Homo sapiens: one gene and its partners. The protein of the gene in region 3 purifies or fractionates together with the protein of the main gene of each other region. This does not show direct contact. Each region holds a gene or a part of one and is shown on either strand. Other genes may lie near its edges.

Region 1 (3,500 bases), on a different chromosome or scaffold from region 3:
ACATCATGGTCACCATCCGCCCCCATGTCTTGACTCCTTTTGTAGAAGAATGTCTAGTAGCTGTAAGTTGTAACTTGCCCTAATGAAGTGGTTTAACTCAGTAAATAAGGAATTATAAAAACAATTCTTATAAGTTATGTAGTGTTTTTTTTCTGTTGCAAACACTAACATTTTAATGTGATCACATACATTACTAAACTCAAACAAAGAGTGTGTTTTGGCTAGTTTTAGTGGGTAGGTTAATTTGTTGTCTGGGTAATACGGAATATCTTCGAGAAATACATTAGCTTTTTAAAGATAAAAGGAAAAACAGATTTGTGATCTCATGTTAATTTTGTTTTAGATTTTGAAGTATATCAAGGGCTGATTTTTGCTAATCTTCTTAGATGCTCTAAGGCAAAAAAAAAAAAAAAATAGTGCACATGTATATCATTTGTTAGAGTAGTTAGCACAACAGAAACTCCAAACCTTAGATTCCCTTTCACCGTGTATGTGTCGAGGCCACAGAGTTACATGTGACAGCAGAGCCCTGCAGTTGTGTTTCATGGAGCCTCCCTCCTCCAGGTGTCAGCTGCTGTCCTTCCCTCATGGGCCCTGGGGATGTCCTGCAACATTCTGTGGTGGTGGTTCTTAAGACCTGCTCGTGGAGCACCAGAATCACCACTAAAAACTATTAAAACTACAGATTCTGAGATCTCTTCTAGGCCTATCATACACCATCTATAGGCGATGAGGTCTTAGAATCTAATTTTGTAAAGCTTCTGGGTGATTTTGGTAATAACTCAGTTTTAGGACCAATAGCCCGTGGTAACTCTCCTTTTGTTAATCCCAGGGAGAATACTGTTTTCACCATCATCTGGGTTTCCCACAGTGCTTACCATAGGCAGGAACTCAGAGTAGCCTTTCAGTTTCCTTTCTTCCCCCAAGTCCTTAGTTCTAGAGACATGGTATTCCAACGAGGCCTCTTCCATTCTGGCACTGTGTTAATCTAACTCCTTTTCTTGGGCGCCCCCTTCTCTACTCCATACTAAACTTTCATGTCAGCTATTTTAAATGATTACTAAGTGAAGATTTATGTGGTTGTTACCTTGTAAAGAAGTGCTTTCCTAATAAAAATATTTTGCCTTGCTAGGGAAGGATAGAATTTGAAACTCCAAACTGAAGTCTCATTCATAATGGACATTCTGTCTGTTTCCCTTGTCCCCTGTGAAGAAATATGGTTTCTTAAAAATTCTGATTATCAGAATTTTTACTAGTCTTAACCCCCCATGAAAGTATATGGCATCTCATAATTTTACCATAATATGCTTGTTTGCTAGAAATCCCACCAATGTAAAGTCTGTACCTAAATGATTATTTATTACTGGTTATAAGTAACTTGACAAGTCTTGATATTAATGTTACATTGACTACTTTTCATAGTATGTTTGCATTGATACAATACAGTTTTTCATGCATAAGCACACACATGTGTGCATATGTACTTATAGTTTTTGCATGTTTAAGCCTTTAAGATTTGCTCATTAGATGAAATAAACCAACTTATAAAACATTTCCAATTGAAATTTGAACTCTAAATTACTACTAGTCCTGTTATAATCCTACACATGTATTTATTTAGTTTTCTAGGAGTTGTGTATGGAGAGTACAAGTTCTGGTCATGATTAGTTGCAGTTGCTTCTAAAAATCATTTATAGCTTTTTTTTAATGCAAAAGAAAAATACTTATAGTCATTTCTTCTTGTACATGCATTTTTGATTACTTTCAAACTAGTTTTAGATGTATGTACTTCTGAATCATCTATAAATCTTTTGTATATTTTTCTTCTCTCTTGTTTTCAATTTATTTGAGGCTGCTGGAGGTACCACATCCCATCAAGTTAGTTTCTCCTATTTTAATGGATTTAATTCGCTCCTTAACAACATGGAACTCATTAGAAAGATCTATAGCACTCTGGCTGGCACCAGGAAAGATGTTGAAGTGACTAAGGGTGAGTGAGAATATATCTGAATTCTAGCCTGCAAGTATTGTGGTGTATTATTATTAGGGTGAAGAAGGCAACTAGTACTTTATTATTTTTCTATCCCATTGACACATATTAACTATATGATAACGTGTGTTTTTCATCCTTTGATCAGACAAACAAAAGCAAACAAAACAATCTTCACCAAGTTTTAAACAAACTGGGCCCAGCTTGGTGACTCACACCTGAAATCCCAGCAGTTTGGGAGGCCGAGGTGGGTGGATCACCTGAGATCAGGAGTTCGAGACCAGCCTGGCCAAGAGGGTGAAACCCTGTCTCTACTAAAAATACAAACATTAGTCGGGTGTGGTGGTGGGCACCTGTAATCCCAGCTACTTGGGAGGCTGAGGCAGAAGAATCGCTTGAACCTGGGAGGCGAAGGTTGCAGTGAGCCGAGATCACGCCACTGCACTCCAGCCTGGGCAACAAGAGCAAAATGCCATCTCAAAAATAAATAAATAAATAAATAAATAAACTGAAGACACCCTTTGAATAAGGAAAACATGTAAAGTTTCTTAAATATTTTCAAATCTTGCTACAGCTTGAGCTAAATTGGCAACCTCTAAGGAAGCCTTCAGGTGTATATGAGGAATTCCATAAAGTTGCATTGGTGACAGTGTAAGTTGGTCTGTAGGCTTGGGACAGGATATTATCAGCATTGTAATGGGATTAAGAAAAAAAATCAGAGCCGGTGCGGTGGCTCATGCCTGTAATCCCAGCACTTTGGGAGGCCGAGGCGGGCAGATCATGAGGTCAGGAGATTGAGACGATCCTGGCTAACACGGTGAAACCCCGTCTCTACTAAAAATGTATATATAAAAAAATTAGCAGGGCATGGTGGCACACACCTGTAGTTCCAGCTCCTTGGGAGGCTGAGGCAGGGGAATCGCTTGAACCCAAGAGTCGGAGGTTGTAGTGAACCGAGATTGCACCACTGCACTCCAGCCTGGGCAACAGAGCAAGACTCTGTCTCAAAAAAAAAAAAAAAAAAAATCAGAATTCCCTTAGGAATTCCACACCTTCATTAATATAACCACCTAAATTAATATAATTAATAATCCTAATTTAACCAGTTAATTAGATTAATATAACTTCCCCTCCTGGGACCTATGCATATGAAGTTTCATATATGATTCCTTATTTTCTCTGATTGGCAATTTGAATAACATCAGATGACCCCAAGCTTTTAAACTGTATATTCAAGAACATATTCTGCACACGCTTTCCAAATGGATGCAAGAACTGCAAAAATTCTTACCTTATTTGGATTGACTTGAATTCTACAACTGATGATAATAATAAAGTTTTGTGATGTTCACTCATTCCAGTGCCTTGAGTTAATGCTGAATTTAGTGGCTATTTCTTCTTGAATCTTTCCCTTTTAACTTTTCTTCCATACAGAGGAGTTTGTTCTGGCAGCTCAGAAATTTGGTCAGGTTACACCCATGGAAGTTGACATCTTGTTTCAGTTAGCAGA
Region 2 (3,726 bases), on a different chromosome or scaffold from region 3:
TCTGCCTCAGCCTCCCGAGTAGCTAGGACTACAGGTGCCCGCCACCACACCCGGCTAATTTTTGTATTTTAGTAGAGGCAGGGTTTCACCATGTTGGCCTGCTGGTCTGGAACTGCTGACCTCATGATCTACCCGCCTCGGCCTCCCAAAGTCCTCCCAAAGGATTGCAGGCGTGAGCCTCTGCGCCCCGCCCACGTCATTCTTCATGTGGAAGTTTTTCTTTCTTTCTGGGGTCAGTTGTGCCTTCCCTGGCTCAGGGTGTCAGCAGCATTCACCCACCAGCCTGACCACCTGCTCATAGAATTGCCCAGAATGTTAGAGCCGAAAGCGCTGCATGGATGCCGCAAGGGCAGCCTGTAATCCCAGCACTTTAGGAGGCCGAGGCGGGCAGATCACCTGAGGTCAGGAGTTTGGGACCAGCCGGCCAACATAATGAAACCCCGTCTCTACTAAAAATACAAAAATTAGCCGTGGGTGGTGGCGGATGCCTGTAGTCCCAGCTACTCAGCAGGCTGAGGCAGGAGAATGGCGTGAACCCGGGAGGCGGAGCTTGCAGTGAGCCGAGATTGTGCTGCCACTGCACTCCAGCCTGGGCGACAGAGTGAGACTTTGTCTCAAAAAAAAAAAAAAGAGCAGCAAACATTTACCATCTCATGTGGCTTCTGAGGGTCAGGAATCTGGGAGCAGCTTAGCTCAGTGTCTGTCCTGAGGCTGCAGTCAGGTTCGGTGGAGCTGCAATCTTTTGAAGCCCCCACTGGGACACGAGGACTGTCTCCAACACAGTTCACTCCTGTGGCGCCTGCATGTACCCACACACACCCACACACACCCCCACACACCCACATACCCGCACACCCGTACACACCCCCACACACCCCTGCACACACCCCACACACACCTGCACACCCCCGCACACACACCCCCCACACACACCCACACACACCCCTACAGCAACGTGCACACACCCCCACACCCGCACACACCCGCACACACCCCACACACCTGCACACACCCACACACCTGCGTGCACACCCCCCCACACACCTGCACACACCGCCCACACCAACATGCACACACCTCCCCCCCACACACACCCACGCACACACCTGTACACACACACCTACACATCTGCGCACATACCCGCACACACCTGCATGTAAACATGCACACACACGCACATCTGCACGCACATGCGCACACCTGCACACACCCACACACCAACATGCACACATCCACACACATACCTGCACACAACTGCACACCCCCGCACACACCCACACACACATATGCACACACGCACGCACACCTGCACATACCTGCACACTCACATGCACACACGCATGCTGGTGCAGCCCTGCCGGGGAGCCTCCAAGGCCCTCACTCCAGAGTGAATAGGAGGGTAGCCTTCTCCGTGGGGGTCAGCCTCTCCCTGGAGGCCAGGGCGGGGCAGTCACCCTCTCTGTGTCTGGAGAATCAGTCTGGGATTTAGAAGGAATAGTTGCTTTTCTTCCTAAGGAAGTTTCTCATGTCTTATACCCTCCAGGTTCGCATCGCTTTGCAGCTGGACGATGGCTCGAGGTTGCAGGACTCTTTCTGTTCAGGCCAGACCCTCTGGGAGCTTCTCAGCCATTTTCCACAGATCAGGTGAGCATCAGTGGGCTGGGGGCTCTTCCCTACCCTGTTTGCTGGGGAAGCTGCTGTGGTTACTGGGTCTGGTTCAGAGCTGGACACCCAAGCTCTGTGCTGGCCTGTGGTGCCTCTTGGCACTTTGCAGTCCTTTGTAGAGGAGGGGTGTGTGGGCTGCCGGTTCATGAGCAGCAGCCTCGGGGATGGCTGGTCACAGCTCATCGTTCTGAGTTTCCTGGGCCCAGCGGCCCAGCCTTGCCCACCTAGAAGAGCAGGAATGTGCTTCTGTCCTTGTGGGGGCCTGGTGAGCACTAAGGGGAGACGTTCGGTGCTGGGGGCAGGGCTCCCCATGCTTGATTCCCCTGGATGGGATCATAAGGTCTCTTTTTTTTAAGAGGCAGGGTCTCACTATGTTGGTCACCTAGGCTGCTCTTGAACCCATGGGCTCAAGAAATTCTCCCATCTCAGCCTCCCAAAGCGTTGAGATTACAGGTGTGAGCTCCTGTGCCCCACCAGAAAATCTTCCTAATAGTAATTGGATGGCTGGGCACAGTGGCTGGGCACAGTGGCTGGGCAAAGTGGCTTGCACTTTGGAAGGCCGAGGCTGGCGAATCGCTTGAGCTCATGAGTTCAAGACTAGCCTCGGCAACATAGTGAAACCCCTTCTCTACAAAAAATAGAAATGTTAGGCCAGGCATAGTGCATGGTGGTGCGTGCCTGTGGTCCCAGCTATGCCAGAGGCTGAGGTGGGAGGATCACTTGAGCCGTGGAGGCAGTTGCAGTGAGCCGAGATCGCACTGCTGCACTCCAGCCTGGGCAACAGAACGAGACTCTGTCTCAAAAAAATAAATAAATAAAAATAAGTAATTGATGTGTATCAGTTTCTGTCGGTTAATGGTTTAAACGTTGTTCCTGAATGTGTAAAAATTGGTGCTTTGTCAATTTGGGTCTTTTCATCGTTGGCTGGAAGTCTCTGTCCACAGTAAAAGGCTCAGCAGAATGGAAGGGACTTGGGGCTGGGGTTTGCTGTGAGCCAGGGGGTTCTCGCCCTCCCCGGGCCTCAGTTTCCTCACCTGTGCCCCGGCTGGTGTGTGGATGGGGTGAGTTCATGTCTTGAGGACCGAGCATAGGGCCTGTGGGAAGGTGACCGCGCGTCGGGCGCTGGGAAGGTGACTGTGCGTTGGGCGCGCTTGGTGGCCCCAGGGCTGGGCCTGCTCCCGTCTGACAGTAGTGCCGCGCTGCATGGCACGGGTGTTGCGTTCGTGGGTGAGAGCGCTGAGGTCTGCACGTCGGGTCTCAGTGGTCATGGGGATGGAAGCCACCCCAGTGGCTGTCGGGGTGAATGGAGGCCCCTGGAGATGGCAGCGGGTTAAGCACGAGCACGGAATTCTCCCTCCCAAAACGGAACTCAGACAACAGTGACGGAGCCTAAGAGCAAAGCCAAAGCCACGGGCAGGGGTGAGCGGGACCCGAGGCAGGAGATGACGGAGCCTAAGAGCAAAGCGAAGCCACGGGCAGGGGTGAGCGGGACCCGAGGCAGGAGGTGACAGAGCCTAAGAGCAAAGCGAAGCCACGGGCAGGGGTGAGCGGGACCCGAGGCAGGAGATGACGGAGCCTGAGAGCAAAGCGAAGCCACGGGCAGGGGTGAGCGGGACCCGAGCCAGGAGTGGCGCCGGGCAGGGAGGCAGGCAGCCCCAGGCGCTGTGTGGGCACTGGGTGAGAAGCAGGGATCCCGGCGCCCTGGCTCTGTGCTGCTTCCTGAGACGAGAGTGGCAGAGGGCAAGAAGAAAACCAAACAGCGCGGGGAACAGAAGTCAGGAAAGATGAACGTCTGGAAGGAAATGCCCCTGGGCCGGGCGGTGCCCCCGGGCGTGAACAGAATCCAGTGCTCCCACAGGCACAGGTGCTTGGTGAGGGCCGTCCTCCCTGGCTGTGCTGTCAGTCCTCAGATGGGGATGGAGGTAAGGAAATGGCCCAGAGTGGCCTGGGGCTGCCACTGGGGAGGGGCCGAGGGTGTCTGGAGAGGTGGGGCCGGCATTGTGGTAGCATAAGCCTCTTCAACAGACTTTGTAAACCTCGTGTGAAACTTAGTTTAAGAAA
Region 3 (3,762 bases):
GCCTTCCAGTTGGGATGCGCAGAGCTTGCTGGGATCCCTTTGGGTTAGGGGGTATCAGGGTGTGGTTTACGCTGGGGAAATGCCCTGCGGGAGCCCAGCCAGGCTGAAGGCTGTGCGTTCAGGAGCTGGGGATTGTCTAGGACAAGGTAATGAACAGTTTGTAGGGTTTGACTGGGATCCTTAGGGAGACAGAGAAGTGGCTTCACTTGGCCAGCTCACACCAGTGGCATGATGTGACCCTCACCCCACTCCTCCTGGTCCCCCTTAGGTGGGGGCTAGGCAGTGGGAGAGGAGGTGAGGGTGGGCGTGGGCTCACTCATAAGCCTGGTGAGCTGTAGCCAGGCCAGAGGCTCTGTTGGGTAAGTGGGGAGAGGATATTAAGAAAGGGGAGGAGCTGGGTGCAGTGGTTCACACCTGTAATCCAGCACTTTGGGAGGCCTAGGTGGGAGGACTGCTTCAGTCCAGGAGTTTGAGACCAGCCTAGGCAACATAGTGAGACCTTGTCTGTACAAAAAAATTTTGAAAATTAGCCAGGGATGGTGGTGAATGCCTGTAGTCCCAGCTACTCGGGAGGCTGAGGGAAGAGGATTGCTTGAGCCTGGGAGGTGGAGGTTGCAGTGAGCCCAGATCACGCCACTGTACTCCAGCCTGGGCAACAGAGTGAGACCCTATTTCAAAAAATAAAATAGGAAAGGAGGATAGCCACTCTCTTGTTCATCTGCTGAATCAGTTTGCTAAGACTTGGAAGGGCGGGAGCGGTTTGGGCCCTGGGCTTCATGGCAGGGAGGGGTAGGGAGTGGCCTCCCTCTGGTCAGGCATCTGACCCCCCATGCCAGAGAAGGACATGTGATTGCACTTGCTGTGTGATTGTGATCCACCGCATGTCTCACCTTATGAATAGGGTGACCATATTATTTATTTATTGTCTACACTAGGGTACTCTTGCCAGTCAAGAGTGCTAATAATTATTACTCTGGGACTGTAGGCAAACTAGGACCATCCCAGATAAATGAGGCCATAGTGTCACCCTACTTATAAGCAACCTCACCCGACTCAGTGTAGACATTACCTGCTTACCTCATGGCCGTGGCTTGGGGTGGAACCATCTGTCTTGCTCCATCCTCACCTCTGTCTCTCCCCCTTAATAGCTGTCCTTGCCATCAGCTGAGGCAGCACACAGGAGTGGTTTAGAGCTAGGCTTTGGAGCCACATACTCTTGGATTTAACCCTGGCACCGTCACTTAGAATCTGTGTGCAATTGCTTAATCCCTGCAAAATCTCATCTTCCTCATGAGGTGGCAGCCACTGGCAGGACTAGAAATTAGAGCTGTAAAATATGGGGCACCTAGTAGGTCCTCAAACTCCTTGGCTCAAGTGATCCTCCCACCTTGGCCTCCCAAAGTGCTGGCATGAGCCACCGCACTCCGCCCACCTAATAGGTCCCCAACCAAGGACAGTGACTACTTTTGAGAGCCCCTCACCACAAGCATCTTCAGCCTGGCCCTGCCCTTCATTTTGAGCCCAACTTACAAGCATGTAGATTCAGCCTTTGTTCAGATACTATCTTCACTGGAAGGCATTCCTGTCTTTGGGGGCCAGGCTGTTGATGGTGGGGCGCTGGGGGTCTCAGGGTTGCAGCTGGAGATGGGTGATATTCATTCCTGCATAGCCTCCTGAACCGATCCAGTGCTTGGCTGGCTTGCACCTGCCTTAATGATCCATGTCAGCCCCTAACATCCTCCTTGGTTTTGAGGTCCCCCTGGAGCCTCAAGCTCCGATGTGGGTGTGTGTGTTATTCATGTCCTAGCCTTCATAAGCCATACAGAGCAGTTGTGTTTGGATTCGCAGTTGGGCCTCCCTGCTGAAAACTGTGACAATGGGATTGACCGTGGGCCCACTTTCCTCCCAGCCATTCTCAACTGGCCACAGCTGCTTCTAAGCAGCCTGCCTCCCAACCATGTTCACCCTCCTTGTTGTTGGGTTCAGAGTCTCTTTGACTTCCGATGCTTATGTCCTGATAAACCCATCACAAAGTCGAAGAATCCTAAGTCGAATCATCACCAGTCAGGGGGCTGTCTGTGCTTTGGTGTTTTCGGGTAGGCCCAGCGTCTCTCATCTTCCTCCAACTACCTTCTGTTTTCTCGTCCTTTTTAGCTTCTCCAGAATCATGCACCAGACGGTGAAGGAACTGTCACCAAAATGTAACGTGTCCTTCCTCCTGTCTGAGGATGGCAGCGGCAAGGGGGCCGCCCTCATCACGGCCGTGGGCGTGCGGTTACGCACAGAGGCAAGCAGCTAAGAGTCCGGGATCCCCAGCCTACTGCCTCTCCAGCACTTCTCTCTTCAAGCGGCGACCCCCTACCCTCCCAGCGAGTTGCGCTGGGAGACGCTGGCGCCAGGGCCTGCCGGCGCGGGGAGGAAAGCAAAATCCAACTAATGGTATATATTGTAGGGTACAGAATAGAGCGTGTGCTGTTGATAATATCTCTCACCCGGATCCCTCCTCACTTGCCCTGCCACTTTGCATGGTTTGATTTTGACCTGGTCCCCCACGTGTGAAGTGTAGTGGCATCCATTTCTAATGTATGCATTCATCCAACAGAGTTATTTATTGGCTGGAGATGGAAAATCACACCACCTGACAGGCCTTCTGGGCCTCCAAAGCCCATCCTTGGGGTTCCCCCTCCCTGTGTGAAATGTATTATCACCAGCAGACACTGCCGGGCCTCCCTCCCGGGGGCACTGCCTGAAGGCGAGTGTGGGCATAGCATTAGCTGCTTCCTCCCCTCCTGGCACCCACTGTGGCCTGGCATCGCATCGTGGTGTGTCAATGCCACAAAATCGTGTGTCCGTGGAACCAGTCCTAGCCGCGTGTGACAGTCTTGCATTCTGTTTGTCTCGTGGGGGGAGGTGGACAGTCCTGCGGAAATGTGTCTTGTCTCCATTTGGATAAAAGGAACCAACCAACAAACAATGCCATCACTGGAATTTCCCACCGCTTTGTGAGCCGTGTCGTATGACCTAGTAAACTTTGTACCAATTCAAAGACCCGAGTGATGCTTAATGGCTGGGGACGGGGGGACAGGCAGAGGGGGGTGCAGTTTCTTGGGATGTGGCAAAGACCAAACACTGGGGAGTTTTGTGGCCTTCTGGGCGGAGGAGTTTTTTTTTTTGAGATGGAGTCTTGCCCTGTCACCCAGGCTGGAGTGCAGTGGCACAATCTCAGCTCAGTGCAACCTCTGCCTCCCGAGTTCAAGTGATTCTCCTGCCTCAGCCTCCTGAGTAGTTGAGACTACAGGCGTGCATCCCCACACCCAGCTAATTTTTGTATTTTTAGTAGAGAAGGGGTTTCACCATGTTGGCCAGGCTGGTCTCCAACTCCTGACCTCAAGTGATCTGCCTGCCTTGGCCTCCTAAAGTGCTGGGATTATAGAACAAGGCCACTTGGCTTCCAGGCTGCTTGGGTTCAGTGAGAGGACTGCAACACTGGTCCCCTCTCTGCCATCCCCACCCGGATCCTGCCCTTCATCTTCCTCTCTGCCAACCCCAAGACAAAGGATGAAATGTGCTCTGCCCCACCCCTCCCCTCCCTCTCTACCCAAACACAGATGAAATCTTGAAGCAGCCCAGGCTGGCTGCACGCTCCCGCTCCCGGATCTTTTTTCTTTATTTTTTATTTTTATTTTCTGTAGACAGGGTCTCACTGTGTTGCCAGGGCTGGTCTCCAACTCCTGAGCTCAAGCAATCTGCCCCCCTCAGCCT

The links.
Region 1: the proteins of HK1 (region 3) and SLC25A13 fractionate together in Homo sapiens (co-fractionation; one large-scale study listed by BioGRID). This does not show direct contact.
Region 2: the proteins of HK1 (region 3) and ASPSCR1 purify together in Homo sapiens (affinity purification with mass spectrometry; 2 studies listed by BioGRID and IntAct, with this or other methods). This does not show direct contact.

What each region holds. Positions count from the first base shown.
Region 1 is NC_000007.14:96,189,599-96,193,098, reverse strand, and holds part of SLC25A13 (electrogenic aspartate/glutamate antiporter SLC25A13, mitochondrial), read left to right. Parts: coding exon 1-62; intron 63-1,851; coding exon 1,852-1,990; intron 1,991-3,424; coding exon 3,425-3,500. UniProt on the Homo sapiens protein: Mitochondrial electrogenic aspartate/glutamate antiporter that favors efflux of aspartate and entry of glutamate and proton within the mitochondria as part of the malate-aspartate shuttle.
Region 2 is NC_000017.11:81,983,964-81,987,689, forward strand, and holds part of ASPSCR1 (tether containing UBX domain for GLUT4), read left to right. Parts: intron 1-1,543; coding exon 1,544-1,644; intron 1,645-3,726. UniProt on the Homo sapiens protein: Tethering protein that sequesters GLUT4-containing vesicles in the cytoplasm in the absence of insulin. Modulates the amount of GLUT4 that is available at the cell surface. Enhances VCP methylation catalyzed by VCPKMT.
Region 3 is NC_000010.11:69,398,837-69,402,598, forward strand, and holds the end of HK1 (hexokinase-1), read left to right. Parts: intron 1-2,154; coding exon 2,155-2,299; 3' UTR 2,300-3,046; downstream 3,047-3,762. UniProt on the Homo sapiens protein: Catalyzes the phosphorylation of various hexoses, such as D-glucose, D-glucosamine, D-fructose, D-mannose and 2-deoxy-D-glucose, to hexose 6-phosphate (D-glucose 6-phosphate, D-glucosamine 6-phosphate, D-fructose 6-phosphate, D-mannose 6-phosphate and 2-deoxy-D-glucose 6-phosphate, respectively).